Linked DNA regions of Homo sapiens. The protein of the gene in region 2 interacts with the protein of the main gene of each other region in a pairwise test. Each region holds a gene or a part of one and is shown on either strand. Other genes may lie near its edges.

Region 1 (4,042 bases), on a different chromosome or scaffold from region 2:
CACACATCCCAGGCACTGACGTGCCATCTCAGTTATTCCTTCTTTGCATTACCTGCCTTCTTCACTTTCTAAGGTTCCTGACACTCTTTTCCTAATCTTAGTGTGACCACATGTCCTGGTTTTCCCAGTATGGTCCCAGCTGGTTTATACCTTTAGTCCTAGAGTGAGTCCTAGGTAGTCCTTTTTACCATCAGACATGTCTTGGGTTGGTTGATAAATTACATAATCTATTTATGCTACTCTTTGGTTTTCCTTATGTCCTCCCACCTAGCTCCCCTACACAATCTTCTCTAACCTCTTTGAGGCCTCGGCAGAATCTTTCAAACACTCTCTTCATGTTACCACCCTTCTCCATGGAGATCACCCGTGTATGATCCTCCTCATTCACCCAGATCAGGAAGCTCTTCTCATTGTTGTGCCTGAGGGCCGGAGAGGGACAGTGATCAAGAGGCAAGGCAAGAATTGGGAGAGATAGAGGGAAAAAAAGCATTTATGAGGGCATGAAGACAAAAGAGGTAATGAGCAGCTTCATACCAAATTCCACGAGCATCTGGCCAGTCTCGAGCCATTCCTGCTGCAGTCAGCAACGGGGACACAGGCTTATCAAACAGAAAGTGGTCCTGGGAAGAGTAACGGGACTTGGGTTAAGAATCTTCATGGTGGCCCCTGGGCCTTTCAGAGCCCATGTCTCATCTGGCCCAGCCTTCCCCATCTGCTCCCACCAACCAGCACCCTCTTAAGGCCCTCACATCAATAAGCTGCTGCTGTTCAGCCTCTGTCATCTCACTGAGCCTATAGTAACGTCCAGCCAGGTCACCCTTCAGGCCACTCAGTGCATCCACCACAACACGTTCCACCTCTCGTCGCTCTGCTCGAGTGCAAGCTGGAGGCAGACTGAGTCCTCGGATGCTTCGGCCAGTTCTGACTCTAGAGGACAATACATACCTCTCATCAAAGTAGCCAGAACGGATCTGGGAGATAAGGGAAATGAATGTAAGTCACAGAAACACGGTGGGAACTGAGGGCCCCTGGGAAAGGAGAGACCTTCCTTAGGCATTAGAGGACTCTTTGTGCATTCTTCCTGCATGCATTGGAAGAAGAGGCCCTTTGGGAAAGCACTGGAATTGAAGGGGGCATTGCAGACCTTTCCCCAAACCACCCACCTTGGGTCATGGTCATTCTTATCTATCCTTCCATCTCCATATATGCTGCCCCTTAAGATATGATTCTTTCCTTACATTAAGATTAAAAGCTCAGCTGTATAATGACCATGAGTCAGGAAATAAGGTGAAGGGGTTGGAGATACAGAGTGTTGTACACAGGCAATGCAAATCAGAAGTGGGATATTTGAACTCACTTTACTGGCATCTAGATCCGTGGTGTGCTTCATTGTCCGGGGGTCATATCCATTGTGTCGCTCTTGGATCACAGGGTCAAACAGGTCAGCAAATACCTAAGGGGAGTTAAGAGGGAGAGATGGTTAAGGAGAGGGAATCCCTCCCCAGACTTCAATTGTGCATTGATTTCACTGGTTCAGAAAACTTAAGTATGGGGGGCTCAGAGTCTTGGGGGAAAGTGAGAGGTCTTTAGGGGAAAGGAGCTGGGATTACTGGGAAGATGAATTGGATCATCAGGGAGACTCTGGGGACCCCCTACCTCATAGGTCTCCTCATCTCCAGCCACCATGCCCACAGTCTTGATGAAGGGGTGGCCAGGGTTGTCCACGCCAGTCTGGATACACTGATCTAGCGTCCAACCAGTGGGTGTGGTCTTGTCGCAGAGCCGTGCATAGACTGCTGGGGTCAGGTGACTGGCCATGCAGTTGTTGTGCTTTCGGAGGTCTGGGTACTCAGCGCTGGGGAGGGGGTACCCAGTAACCATGGAGGGAGGGCACAGACGCCTAGACCTAGTGCAGTTACCTGGGAGCTGTCCAGTTGGCCATGTCTGGCTTTGCTCCGCGGGAGGAGGGGGAATTAGAAAGAGGGTAAACCTTGGTAATCTCTTTAGGGACTTTCAGAGTCTATGCTTTCCTAATAGTTCTAGTTGCCTCTGGCTGGCCAGCTCAGTTTCTTCAGATCTGCTCAGTTCTTTCCTCCCATGACACAACACTACGGATGGAGGAGGGGAAAAGCCTAAGGAGAGGAATTGAGGAAATGAGGGAAGGAGATGGAGGGGAGCGAAAAGGATAGTTCCTGGCTTTACAATTAGGGATTTGGGCAGCCAGTGCAGCTAGAACTCGTAGGGCCAGAGCTGGTCTTGGCAGGTCCCCAGGAATGTTCTTGCTTTATGGTTTTGGCCCCCACCCCCACCCCACTGAGGTCTGCAGACTGCACAGCCCTCCAGCTCCAGGGCCTTCGTGATTATAGCCCTTCTCTGTTGCCCGGATTCTCACTTCTACCCGCACCTTCGTTCCCATCACCTCCTGCCCCCGCCTCCTCCCGCGCCTCAGGCACTGTTACCTCGGGGGATACAGCCTCCGTCGTTCACTGGCAGCTCGTACAGGTTCCGGTCGGAGCAGAAACCCAGCGGCTAGAGACCCCGCTCCGGCCAAAGCCAGGAGCCTGAGTCCCGGGCGGGCGGACAGCAGACGGGAGAAGGGACCAGCCATGGCTTGAGGTCTGGCTACGGGATCCTGGAGTAGGCGCTGGCGCAAGATAAGATCCGGAACAGGGAGGGAGGATGCAACCGGATAGACCGAGGGCCGGAGCTAGGTCCGAGGCTGCAGCCGAAATGGGGGTCGGATTGGAGGCTGGAGCCGGAATGGGAGCCGGTGCCAATCAGACTGCAGGAGAGGCGCAATGAGCTAGTGGCAGGCGGGCGGGCGGAGGAGAGGGAGGCCCCAGCCGCAGTCTCCAGGGGTGGGGCTCCCCCAGGCCCCGCCTTCCCGCCTGCCACCGCGCTAGGTGCGCGAGGGCAGGGGTGGGCAGCACCCGCCAGGTAATTAGCGGGACCTGAGACTCGCGCGTCTAAAGCCGGGGATGTAGCCCCCTCCCGCCCCGGGGATGTGGCCGCCCAGATTTCAGCACCAAGTGGAGGACAGCACCCACGTGGACTAGCTGAACCCAACACCCTTCCCCCACACCCCTCGGTTTAAGCTGAAACTCGATCCGTCTACCCTGTGGGTGTGCAAGGGTGACACTGCCCAACCTTTCCTCTGCTTTCGGCCTGCCCCAGCCACCTCTTCGGTCTCCCGGGGGCAGCCGCGGGGAAACCGCGGAATAAACACAGATACCAGAGGAGGATATGGAGAAAGCACAGGGTTAGAGGCAGGCACTGGGAAAGACACCCACTGGCTCAAGGTCACCTTTTCCTTAGAACCAGGAAGAGGAGCAAGGTGCTTCCTTGCCACCTCTGTGCACGCCTTACAAAGTTGAGAAAGGACTCCCTGGGAGGAACCAAGGAAATATTAATTCTTATGCCATCTGTGCTGTGTCCTCCACCTCCATTCTGCACCCAAGTCTGAAGCCCTGTTATTTCCTGCCTCTGCTTCTCATGATCCCCCACTTTTTGTTTTCCTTTTGTCTCTCCCACTTTCCTCCACGTCCCCTACCTCACCTTTGATCTTTTACTTCTCTGCGTCTTTTCCAGGCTCAGATGTGTTTGCTGCTCACAGGATGCCCTCTGCGTTTTCTCGGCAAGCTTGCCCACCTGTTGGTGGTGCTGGGTGTGGGGGTGGGCAGGGAATCGTTAGTTTCCTCCTCCTCCTCTCCCTTGGCTTCTCTCTCCGTAGTTCCTAGTTCCTGTGCTGGAGGAGAAGGTAAAGTGAGGTGAAGGGTGTGGTGAGATGACTGGGTGTGGGACTGGAACAGGCAGGCACAGGTCTCCAGACACCACATGTGTTTCCTCTCTTGTCTCCCTAATGCTGTTTAATCCAGAGAGTAAAGGCGAGTGGTGTACAAAGGCATGAGGTGGTCAGGGAATCTCTGCCTTCCTCGTGGTCCCCTCTGCTGCTCTCTCTCTCCTCGTGAAACACATATTCAGATTTGAGAGGGCTTTGTTTCCCAGCTCCAGGTATGATTTGACCTTTGTCCTGGTAGCAAGG
Region 2 (3,500 bases):
GTAATGCTATTCATTTACATTTACTGCAAATTGTCATCTCTGAAGAAATACCTTCTCGGACCATTCAGCCTAAAGCAGCTTTTCCTTTCAAGTCAATCTCTATGACACTTCACTTTTGTGTTTTCTTCATAGCATTTATTGTCACCTGAAATCATCTCGTATATTTGTTCATCTAGTTCATTGTTTGTCTGTAGGCCCTTTCCCCCCAAAAGAAAGAAGAACAAGGTCCTTGTAGGATTTTTTCATATCTGTACACTGGAGTCCAGCACAAGGGCTAGAATATGCTAAGTGCTCAGTAACTAATTGTTGAATAAATATCAAAGAAAGAATGATATAGGATTAATTTATTAGTATTTCTGAAAAAGAAAAATAGCTGAATGGTGGGAGGTTTCATTAGTGTTCTTAACTCAATTGGTCTAATTTTAACGGAGAGGTTAAATGCAATTATCAACATCTATGGAATGAGGTAATCAGCATCCTTGTAATTCAAGCTCCCATGTAATGCACTTAATAATGTGAATGCCAGAGTATTTTAGCTACTTATAAGGATTTGACTGACAAGGACTTGACTGAATAGTAATGGATCTTTACACATCTGCTCTACGGGGACCTTTACTTATTAACTGTGTCATTGTTTATACTGCAGAATTTTTAACAGAAACTGAAAGAATGTAGAAATAATAGATGCCCTTGATTATAACTTATAGCTGACTTCTTCATGTCTATTATCTTTTCATTTATACTTACAAAAAAAGAAGCTTTTTAATTTAAGTCTTTCTCCCATAACCCATTGTAAGATACCACTCTTTTTATTTACCTTCTCAGGACTTAAAATCTCCAAATCAGAGAGATGAAATTGCAGGAGCCCGAGCTTCACTGAAGGAGAACTCTCCCCTCTTGCATTCAATTTGTTCAGCTTGTTTGGAGCATTCTGATGTTGCTTCCCTCAAAGCAAGCAAGGACACAGTTTGTGAAGAAATTCAGAATGCTCTCAATGTAATTTCAAATGCTTCACAAGGGATCCAGAATATGACAACCCCACCAGAACCTCAGGCAGCAACCCTGGGAAGTGCCCTTGATGAGCTGGAGGTAAGTCGGGAGAAAGATAAAGTGTGATCTGATGTCCTAATACAGTAATAATAATAATAAAACAGAAGAAGATCCACATGTTGGCGTTTAGAGCATGAGAAAATAAAAAATCCAGATTAGTCTCTATCACCTTCTTGAGTCTTCCAAAGAATTGATTAACAGGAAAGTACTCTGTTAGTAAACTTCTGACTCCTGTACATCTCTGCCAAGGAATCCAATGAATTTGAAGTGGGATTGTTAATTAGATCGAAATGATGACTTTGTTTTATGTAGATCTACTTATGAAGCATAAGATTTATTCACTCCACAAATACTTATTGGCATTACTGTTCTATGTGCTTGGGACATATCTGATCACTTCCCTTGACAAATTTTTACATTTTAGCAGGTGATTATAGGCAAAAAATAAAACCAATAAACACTGTAGAGAACAAAATTGTATAGATGTTACACTGAGAAGGTGAGATAATGCCAAAGCCTTGAAAGAGTTCAGGAATCGGGCAGATGAAGATCTAGAGCAAAGGCTTGAAGGTATGTGCCCTGTGTTTAAGTGACAACATAAAAACCAGGGTGTCTAGGTGAAGACAGCAAAGTGATGAGTAGCAGGAGCTAAGGTTGGAGAACCAACCATTTAGGAGTGTGTATGCCTTTAAGGACTTTGGCTTTTACTCCAAGTTAAATGGGAATACACTGAAAGGTTTTAAGCAAAGGTGTGACATGCTGCGACTCGTGTCTTAAAAGGACTATGATAGTTGCATAAGGAACATAGACTGAAGGAGAACAATGAGAGGAACTGAAAAACCAGGCTGGAGGCTATTGTAGTAACCCAGGTTCCATTTATACACTTTACATGAACCACCTCATGTTTTAGTTTAGACTAGAGTGGTGTTGGTGGACATCAGTGCTAAATTTTGTAAATAGAGTCAACTGAATTTTGATAGAATGGATGTGGGACATGAATGAAAGGAAGGAGTCATGGCTAGTGTTGTAGGCTGGGTCCTCCAGAATCACACACAGAATGGAGTTTGGAAAACAAGGTGTTACATTTGGGAAGGAAAGAGGGAAGGAGCGGGACTGGATAGAGGAAGAAGTCTACCTGACAGCTAGACCCGCAAAGCCTAGGCCAATCAGCAGGGAGCTCTGGTGAGAGCATTGCCCTCCAGAGTGTACCTTGTCAGGCAGAAATGGCCAGGCCTGTATGTCTCTTTCAGTCACTGGATGCAGGTTACTCTACCCTGGGAAGGGTATGACCTTTAGGGGCCTGAAACACTCTATATACACACTGAATATGTATTACTTTTGCACCATGATAAAGCTGGAAAAAATTATAAGTTGAACCATTGTTAAATCAAGTCAGGGACCATCTGTAGTCTGTATCTGGGGAGTGCCGAGTGTGATACATTGAAATTTGTTAGAGTAGATAGATAGGATCATACGGGTTGAGCATCCCTTATCTGAAATGCTTGGGACCAGAAGTGGTTTGGATTTTGGAATTTTTTGGATTTTGGAATATTTGCATATACCTAATGAATTATCTTGGGAATGGGATTGATGTGTAAACATGAAATTCATTTATATTTCATATATACCCTATACACATAGCCTGAAGGTAATTTTATACAACATTTTAAAAATTTTGTGCATGAAATGATGTTTTGACTGCATTTTAACTGCGACCTGTCACATGAAGTTAGATGCTGAATTTTTCCCTAGTGCCATCACATTGGCATTCAGAAAGTTTTAGATTTTGGAGCATTTTGGATTTCAGATTTTTAGATTAGCAACGCTCAACCTGTATAGCACATTTTTCACAGTACTAAAACACAATTGTGTCAGAGAATGCTCCCATAAGAGCTCCAGTTTATCTCAGACAATGCATTCTGTATTTTAGGATTAAAGAAGAAGACATTTCCAAATTGTTCCTCCTTCTGAGACCTCTTCTCTTTTCTCTTTTTAGTTGAAAGTGACTGCCACAGGCACAAAATGGCAGTGGTTGGAGAGGAGGAGAAAGTGTGCGTGTTATGTGTGTAACTTCAGTGGGAGTGGGCATAGGCAGGGCAACAGTGTTCTCTTAAGAAAGGCAGACTCAGTTGTTCTTCATGAGGCGGGAAGGGGTCCAAAAGATATTTCTCTGAGATCCTAATGAGGATTCTAAACTGTCTGAACAACCTTTGAAATTTAGTTCTAGTCAAAGGTACAGATGCACAAACTAGTAAAAAATGCCTAAGTTTTCTATATTTTTTATATCCAAGTTACAAATAGCTGCTGTGGCTGACTGAACTAGATAAAGCAGAATTTATTGAGCATTTAACCTTTTTTAATGATTTGGTAAATTAAATGGTTGCACTTTTCATTATTTACAGGAAGCTGTATTGGTAAAGGATCCAAAATAACCTTTGCTCTATTTTGCT
Region 3 (4,118 bases), on a different chromosome or scaffold from region 2:
AGATGGATAGCTCATCTATGAAGATGAATTTGAATTCAATAAGTTTTATGGGGCCTTCTTTTTTCTAATCTTATGTATTAACACAACTTTAATAAGGGATGTACAATGTTACACTGAAAGACTAAGAATAGTCAAATGCATATATGGAATATGACTATATTTATGGATGCATGCATATTTCAATCACCGGCAACTCTTATAATTTTGTGTGTGCAGATTTTCACTGTTAGGGCAAACATCCAAGGAGCGTGTCAGCTCCTGGACACTTGTGTATCTTTCAGTGATTTGGGAGTTGGGAGTCACTAGCAACTAGTCCTCTGTGGGTCTGAAGCTTAGCAATCAACACAAATGTCCACATTCTTGTGATTGTTCATCTGCTGTGGTAGAACTATTCAGATAGAACCATTTTGTTTAGTTATCAAAGCAACGCAGGAGCTGTATTTAAACAGATTTCACAGAGAACACTAATAGCTAAGAGGTTATTCTCTCTGTTGAGCATAAGTCTACCTTAAGCAAAAAATCAAGAATGACCTAATAAGCAAAGAAGGAAACCAACCCAATTATTATTTTTCCTTTGGAGATACAGTGGTGCCCGTAAACTGAAAGGAAAATTCAAGCTAATATAGTTTTCATTTATTGTTTACTTCTTTAGCATACATTAATAAAGTTTTAAATAAGAGTTGTGTTATACTTTATGGATTTGGAATATATAATATAACATATAGAACAATAAAACTAAGGATTTATGGTCCAAACAAAGTATATCAAAATTTTCCTATTGGGGGAGTGTATCTCAATAGATCAATTACCCCATATTTAATATTGGCAAATTGACTCTGCCTAGATAGATTTCTGTGCAACATGATTTTATACATGTTTCACTAATCAACTACTAGTCTTATGATTATTTACTGATTAATCTTGAAAATAAACTCAAATGTGGTTGGCAACTAAACAGCTTTTTTCCACCAGAAATTGAACTGACTTGAGATAACAATGGATAAAAGCTTATTATTTATCTAAAGATGGTTTTGAATAAAAAGAAAGTGAAAGCCTCCTTTCACCATGTTTGGGAATGTGATCCACTCAGCCCATAAAACTAATAACTGACAGTGTCTCTCATGCCCTGAAAGTGAATTCCAGGACTCAGAATGACCTGATGTTGACAAACACCTCTCACTCAACACATCAAGGAAAAATTTAAATACATAATACATAATTTATACTATTTAGTTGTCCAACAAAATGTATAGGAAATTCCCATTTAGATGAGGAAGGAATGTTCAGATGTTTGAATTGAAAGGGAACTTACCTGAGAGCAGAAGGTGCCCTGTAAAGAGGCCATGCCGAAGTCTGTGAGAAGAGCACACTGAGAAGAGTCAGGAGCACAAGGAGCTGGGCCTTATTTCTGGTGTCCATTTCTGTGCCTCTAAAGAGAGAGAATCACCTCAGTTCTTCCAGCCAAAGATGTCACCAGCAAGGTAATTCTGATTGTCTAGCAGTAATTTTCAATGGCTCTTGCAGAGTTTGTAAAGAGTAATTTTCATCTTGTAGAAAGAGTTAAATTGCAAGATGATACATTCAAAAATCAGTATTTCTCTCAGTGACAGGTGCTTGAATAAAAATTAGAATCCTTTTCACCTGCTGTCTGGGCACATGGTTGGCCCCAGTATCTATTGAATGCCATACTTCTATAGTGCTGGAAATAACCCTGGGGACAATCTTTTCATAACAGGGATGTACCACTCAAGCTTAGTGTATTTTTTGACGAAGGAAACAGCTTCAAGACATTGATTTTCTTCTGCTTTAAAATTTCAGTATCTGACTAATATAAGACTAGAGTATCATCTATTTAATAATTATTCTGCTCGTGTGTGTGCAAATGTATAAATATAATGTGTATATATACATATAATTTTAAAAAAGATTTTGTATATACATTACTTTTTCCTCTTTCAATTGTAGATATTACGGAAACTTATTTCCTTACACCTGGATTTGAACTTCTTAACTCAGTAGTGAATATTAATACTCAAAATATTACTGAATCATATGTTGTCATTGAAATAAATTTTTCCATAAGAGGAAAATATATATTAAAAGCAAAGCTTGCATTTCTTGCATTTAATCAACTTACACATTTCATTTCTAGTTTCTAGATTAAAAGCCTAGGAGTAAGGTCTGTTTCTCTTGCTGCCTATAAAAATTATGGAATTTAAACTTAAGGAAAAAATAAATGCATCTTAGATTCACTTAACCAACATACGAAATAGGAAAAAAAAAGCACTTTAAAAATAAGTTGAAAATTTCAAAAGCAAATGTTCCCACTGAAATTTTCAGTCAAAAATCTACATACAAGTAAACTTTACTTGAATGAATTATTTGTAAAAATCAGTATTCAGTAAAAGAGCAAGCAGGGTAAAGCATCTTACAAACAAAAGAATTCAGAAAATCTATCCATATGAGAGAAATTGAAGTATTTCTATCCTTACCAGGTGACTTGAGAAACTTGTTTTTTGCTGTTGCAAAAGCAAAGCACTATCAAATTCTTTTCAAGAGAGAAAAATTCATTATTTTGTGAGAAAAGTTCCAGAGGCAGGAGGGAAAAAGAAGAGGAAAGGTAAAGTTTTCACTTACCTCGCCCAGTCGTGCTCCCCCGGAGCTGACTGTTCTGGTTTGTTTTGGAGCTGTCTTAGGTGCTGAAGTCCTGGGAGTAAGAGAAAGGCTCCACCAGTTCTCTGCCCTTAGCAATGGCTAAGGGTTGGCTGTTACTGCCTGCTGGTGCTTCTCACTCTACCCTGACCAGCATTTCAAAGCCCATCATTTTATAGGGCTTATACTTAGGACTGAGCAATCACAAAGTGCTCTGAAAGACGTCACAGTATGACGGCCATGGGATGAATAGGGCTTGAAGTTCTTACTTAATTGTCATTATGCCTAATTTATATAAGTTTATAGTGAGCAACTTCAAAATGTAAGATAAGAGGAAATTTACTTTTCTTTAAACAAACAAAGTAGCAAGCTCAATGTGAAATGTTTTAACCTTTAATTAATTGTAAAATAAGAAAATGATTGTAGTGTTATAGCCAGGGCCATTGGGATTCCTTCAGAAAATAAAGACTTCATGTGTAGAAACAAATGCATAAAGCAACAAACACTTATGTTCATTACGCTTATAAAAGTATAATTATACTTTATTACAAAGTATCAATTCTCTTAATATTTTTAATTTTTATGCTATTCATATAGTTCCAGATTTAATCTTTCTTGAAATCTATCCTAACTTTAAAAGCTCTAGAGATAATTTTCACCTTCCTATTATTACATTTCGTCTTTGTTGAAACTAATTCCAAGATAAGTGTTTCAGAAAGTCTCTAAGATAGTAAGATATGCACGCTGTTGTACAAAGCAGTACAAGTAGTGCTATTTCATATTTGTATAAAATGGCACAATTCCCAATGCACTTTTACATACACTGTGTCAAATGATCCAAAAAATAAATTGTTGTCAGGCTATATACCTCAAGGAATTTAATTGTCTTTTCTTTTTAAAGATTTTCCTCATCACTTTTATAAGTCTTTGCATAATGTAGAATTAGTTTTCTACCCTCATCCCCAACACACACACATACTCAAACCAGTTTTGAACATTTCTGATTCAATCACTTGACAGGTGGCTTCAAATAGTTGAAAAGCATTTATATAGTACTTTGATAAATACTTCACTTCTATTTGTGGATTTGTAACTAAAGGTAGTCTAGCACACATTCAATCAGAGTTTAAGGTAAAAATGCAGCCACATGAAAAATTTCCTAAACAACAGAGGAAAATGCCATTTTTCCTTTTATTTTAAAGGCTTTCTGCCATGTGTATTATTTTTACATTTTGTTTCTAAGTTTCATAAGACAGAATGGCTTTACAGTCCTCTTTCTTCTACTTTAAGATTGTAGTATCTATTTCCTTCGTTCAAAGTCAGACTGATCCAGTAAAAGAATATCCTGCTATGCTTAATCATATTTTCTAATCCAGTTACCAGAAAAATTAAATGAATTAAGTTTCAAAATGTCTGGAAATTTGTTTCCCAGTTGACAGCTCTGACTTAAGCCAGAGTTCCTGTGG
Region 4 (3,500 bases), on a different chromosome or scaffold from region 2:
GCAGTGTCTTGGTGGGTGTAGTTTTACCGTGAGAATGAGAGGAAGAAGAATGGGAACTCTCACTGGAACTGCTGCGCGTCTCGGTACTGGTGCTAGTCTTTTTCATTTTTCTTCTCTTAGCCAAAGGGGCCTTATCAACATTCTGAAGGCAAAACCCCTCTCTCTTGTATTTGTTAAAGGCCTGGCGGGGGAAAAAAAGGGAACCCCTGTGAAGGTAAAAGTACTGAAGCTTTCCTAGCAGTTATGACTTACAGCAGAAGACAACTTTCCATTGGCAACTGCAGCCCCAAGTTGTTTTAAGGGAACAAAGCTCTTAAAACCTTTATATCTAAGTCTATTGGCAGGGTGGAGAAGTTCATGGGAAAAAAATTCTGAGGGCTCTGTTTATATCAAACTAGCTAGGCGGTCTGAGAGTCACAATTCTAATAAATCTTTTGAAGAAGTTAGTACTACATCCTAATACGAAACAATTGACTGGAAATTCCTGAAGACCATCAGTAATCTAAACTATCCCCATTGCTTTTACTGGTTCTGTGTCTAAGATTTAAAATTCTGAACACAAAGTCCCAATGCAAGCAGACTTGACGCATTCTGAGTCTTTGCTCTTCAGTCCCATTCAATGTCATTTGGATATATACTGGACACTTACACGCATGGAGAAGCACAGCTCTACAGCTTTGCCCTGGCTTCCTCCTCCTGCAGCCTGTCTTCACTCTCCTTAGCCTAGGCTTGGATAATGCTGCAGTTACACCTTGTAGTTGTCACCTTGCAACCTATGTCACTGAGAAGATTTGGATCATCTGATAGAAATTCTTGCAGTTAATCTCTTTACCATCTCAACATTTCCTAGTTTATTACTTTTTAAATCCATTTCTGCTGCTGAAGAAGCACTATCCCTATACCTTCTCCTTTCTCAAAATAATCCCTTTGAAGGTGACTTTCTGTTTCCCTAACTCATCTTATACTATACTTCACATGAATTATCTTAATATATTTGCATCTGCTTGGCACAAATGTGCATAATCCACAGTTTCTACCAAATAGTCTCAGTCTTTCAAACATACAATCTATACTTAATACCAATGAACTTACTTCATATCCCTCCCAGTTTTAAGAATGTGTGATGTACTAAATGGTTGTAAAATGAATGGACTTTCAAATATGCCTTAGTTCCTAATGTTTATTATGGTTTTTAAAGAAATTTAGTCAGTCTATTTGAGAGGAAAAAGTTCTATTATCTCATCTCATAAGGTCATTCTAAAAATTAAATATGTATTTTGTGGGTTAGCAGTGACTCTGGTCCCCTGTGCACTTATTGTTATAAAGTGTTTATAACCATGAAGCAATTTATAAAAACATACCTAAAAGTAAAAGGACACATATTATTTTAAATGTGAAACAAAGAAAACGTATCTGAGGCTACAGAGTAAGAACATTTGATTATGATTCCTACTCAAACCGCCCAACATGTACAGAGCACAGGGCCTTACGTGGAAGGTTGCTTTCACACAGGTATGCACGGCAGCTCCGGAAGATCCTAGAATATCCGGAGTCATCAGAGGATTGGAGGACAGCTGACTTCCATCTTGTAGCCATTCATTGTACCTCAAGCCAGACATTTTAAGCCTTTTGTTTGGATCTACTGTGAGAAGTCCTTTGGGAATAGATATTTTTATTTTATGATTTGTCATTTTAAACATGGTTTAAAAACAAACTCAGAAATAAATCTCAGCTATGTTCACATGACATAATGGTTTCTATATAGCTTTAACCTCCTACAAAGATAATTAGATTTTCCTATTCATTTAAATTCTTTTGTGAATGCTGGAGTCTAATGATAAAGTCACAGTAGCCTATTTCTAGGAAGCTCCAGGCGAAGTGGCTTTTCAATCAGGAGAAAATAAACATCCAAAACAAAGATTCCCACTGGTGACTTCGTAAGCTCCAAATGAGCAAAAAGCACACAGATCTACTTCATCCATATACCAAACATTTACTGGCCATCTTCTATAGGTCAGGGAGTGCAGTAAGGCACTAGAGATATGGAGATGGAGATGCAGAGAGGAGCTATTAATATCAGAAGACACACAGGCAAAACCCCAGCTATTATAACATCAGGGATAAGTGCGATAGCAAGATACACAGGCACAGTGTGTTAGCAGGCCTGAGGGAGAGTGTAGCCTAGGGAGTGAGGGCATCCTGGAAGGCTTCTAGGAGATGAATCCTGTAGGATAAGGAGAAGTGGCTATGGAAGAGGATTAAGAGCATGTAAAGACACGGAGGGATCTGAAAGCTCAGCATATCTGAGGAATTCAAATATCCTGCAACGGCAGAGCTGGGGTGAGGAGGAAACAAAGGCAGACAGGACCAGGTCATGAGGGGCTTTGAATGTTAAATGCTAGGCTAAGGAGTCTGACCTGAAGCAAACAGAGAGTCTCCAAAGGATTTTTGGCAGAAAAGAGGCATAATCACATAGGGATTCTAGAAAAGTCCCTCTATTGACAGATGATGAACAGCTTAAGTCAGAGGAAGTGAGGCAAGGTGAAAGGATGCTGCAGGATTTGGGGAGAGAAATGGTGATGAGAACAAAGGCAACGGCAGGTGAATGGGAAGGAAGGGACCGGACTGCTAGGAGCGCTGCTGAATGTGTAGAACTCTGTGACTGGCTGCAGAAGGCAGGCAGGTGCAGGTATCCAGGAGGACGCCTAGGTTTCTGTTTTGGTGATCTGGCTTCTTAGCAGTGCCACTGTTGACAGGAGGAAAGACAGGAGGAGGAGCGTGTTTGGGGGGAAGGACAGTCAAAAAGTATTGGTTTGTTTTAGATGTGCTTGACTGAGATGCCAGTGGAAGTCAAGTGCTAGCTCATGTTAGAAATGTGGATACCATTACTAAAGAGAATGTTCTGATAAGAAAACAAGGCTGAAGAGAGTAGCCTGGAAGCCTTTTAGAATACACATGGATTCCTCGAGTAATTAACATATGAATGTATGTGTAATGGCCATGATTCTACTTCAATCACTACACATCATATAAAATGTAAAATTTCATTAGATTCTTACCTTGGATCAAATCTTTAGCCTCTTGGGATACATTCTTCCAGGCTTCTCCTTCAAAGGAGAAATCTCCCTTTTTAATTTTCTTCATGATTTCCACCGCGCTGGTACACGTCAAACTTCGGTCATGAGATTGGAAGGGAACCTGTCCTGACAACATTGTGTACTATCAGGGAAAAAGTAACAAAACAGAATGACTACCCAGATCTGTTAAAGCCACTCTAATAATCCTAATAGTAACGTAACTGGTGTAATTTACCAATTGCTACAACTAGCATGATTGAGTTTAAAAGATTACGTGATTCCTCAGGGATCTAGAACTAGAAATACCATTTGACCCAGCCATCCCATCACTGGGTATATACCCAAAGGATTATAAATCATGCTGCTATAAAGACACATGCACACGTATGTTTATTGCGGCACTATTCACAATAGCAAAGACTT

The links. Proteins that work in one complex are often made in the same cells at the same time.
Region 1: the proteins of CTNNA3 (region 2) and CKMT1A interact in binary tests that used the Homo sapiens proteins (3 or more experiments, as listed by UniProt).
Region 3: the proteins of CTNNA3 (region 2) and VIP interact in binary tests that used the Homo sapiens proteins (3 or more experiments, as listed by UniProt).
Region 4: the proteins of CTNNA3 (region 2) and RPS6KA5 interact in binary tests that used the Homo sapiens proteins (3 or more experiments, as listed by UniProt).

The regions. Positions count from the first base shown.
Region 1 is NC_000015.10:43,692,617-43,696,658, reverse strand, and holds the start of CKMT1A (creatine kinase U-type, mitochondrial isoform 1 precursor), read right to left. Parts: upstream 2,801-4,042; 5' UTR 2,609-2,800; coding exon 2,460-2,608; intron 2,133-2,459; exon of another isoform or gene 1,949-2,132; coding exon of another isoform or gene 1,856-1,948; coding exon 1,657-1,855; intron 1,454-1,656; coding exon 1,358-1,453; intron 972-1,357; coding exon 750-971; exon of another isoform or gene 749-749; intron 621-748; coding exon 535-620; exon of another isoform or gene 531-534; intron 420-530; coding exon 296-419; intron 1-295. UniProt on the Homo sapiens protein: Reversibly catalyzes the transfer of phosphate between ATP and various phosphogens (e.g. creatine phosphate).
Region 2 is NC_000010.11:67,217,196-67,220,695, reverse strand, and holds part of CTNNA3 (catenin alpha-3), read left to right. Parts: intron 1-825; coding exon 826-1,089; intron 1,090-3,500. UniProt on the Homo sapiens protein: May be involved in formation of stretch-resistant cell-cell adhesion complexes.
Region 3 is NC_000006.12:152,749,479-152,753,596, reverse strand, and holds the start of VIP (VIP peptides isoform 1 preproprotein), read right to left. Parts: upstream 2,801-4,118; 5' UTR 2,638-2,800; intron 1,430-2,637; 5' UTR 1,420-1,429; coding exon 1,313-1,419; intron 1-1,312. UniProt on the Homo sapiens protein: PHM-27 and PHV-42 are two bioactive forms from proteolysis of the same precursor protein, that cause vasodilation. PHM-27 is a potent agonist of the calcitonin receptor CALCR, with similar efficacy as calcitonin.
Region 4 is NC_000014.9:90,872,142-90,875,641, forward strand, and holds part of RPS6KA5 (ribosomal protein S6 kinase alpha-5), read right to left. Parts: intron 3,220-3,500; coding exon 3,060-3,219; intron 1,655-3,059; coding exon 1,491-1,654; intron 182-1,490; coding exon 1-181. UniProt on the Homo sapiens protein: Serine/threonine-protein kinase that is required for the mitogen or stress-induced phosphorylation of the transcription factors CREB1 and ATF1 and for the regulation of the transcription factors RELA, STAT3 and ETV1/ER81, and that contributes to gene activation by histone phosphorylation and functions in the regulation of inflammatory genes.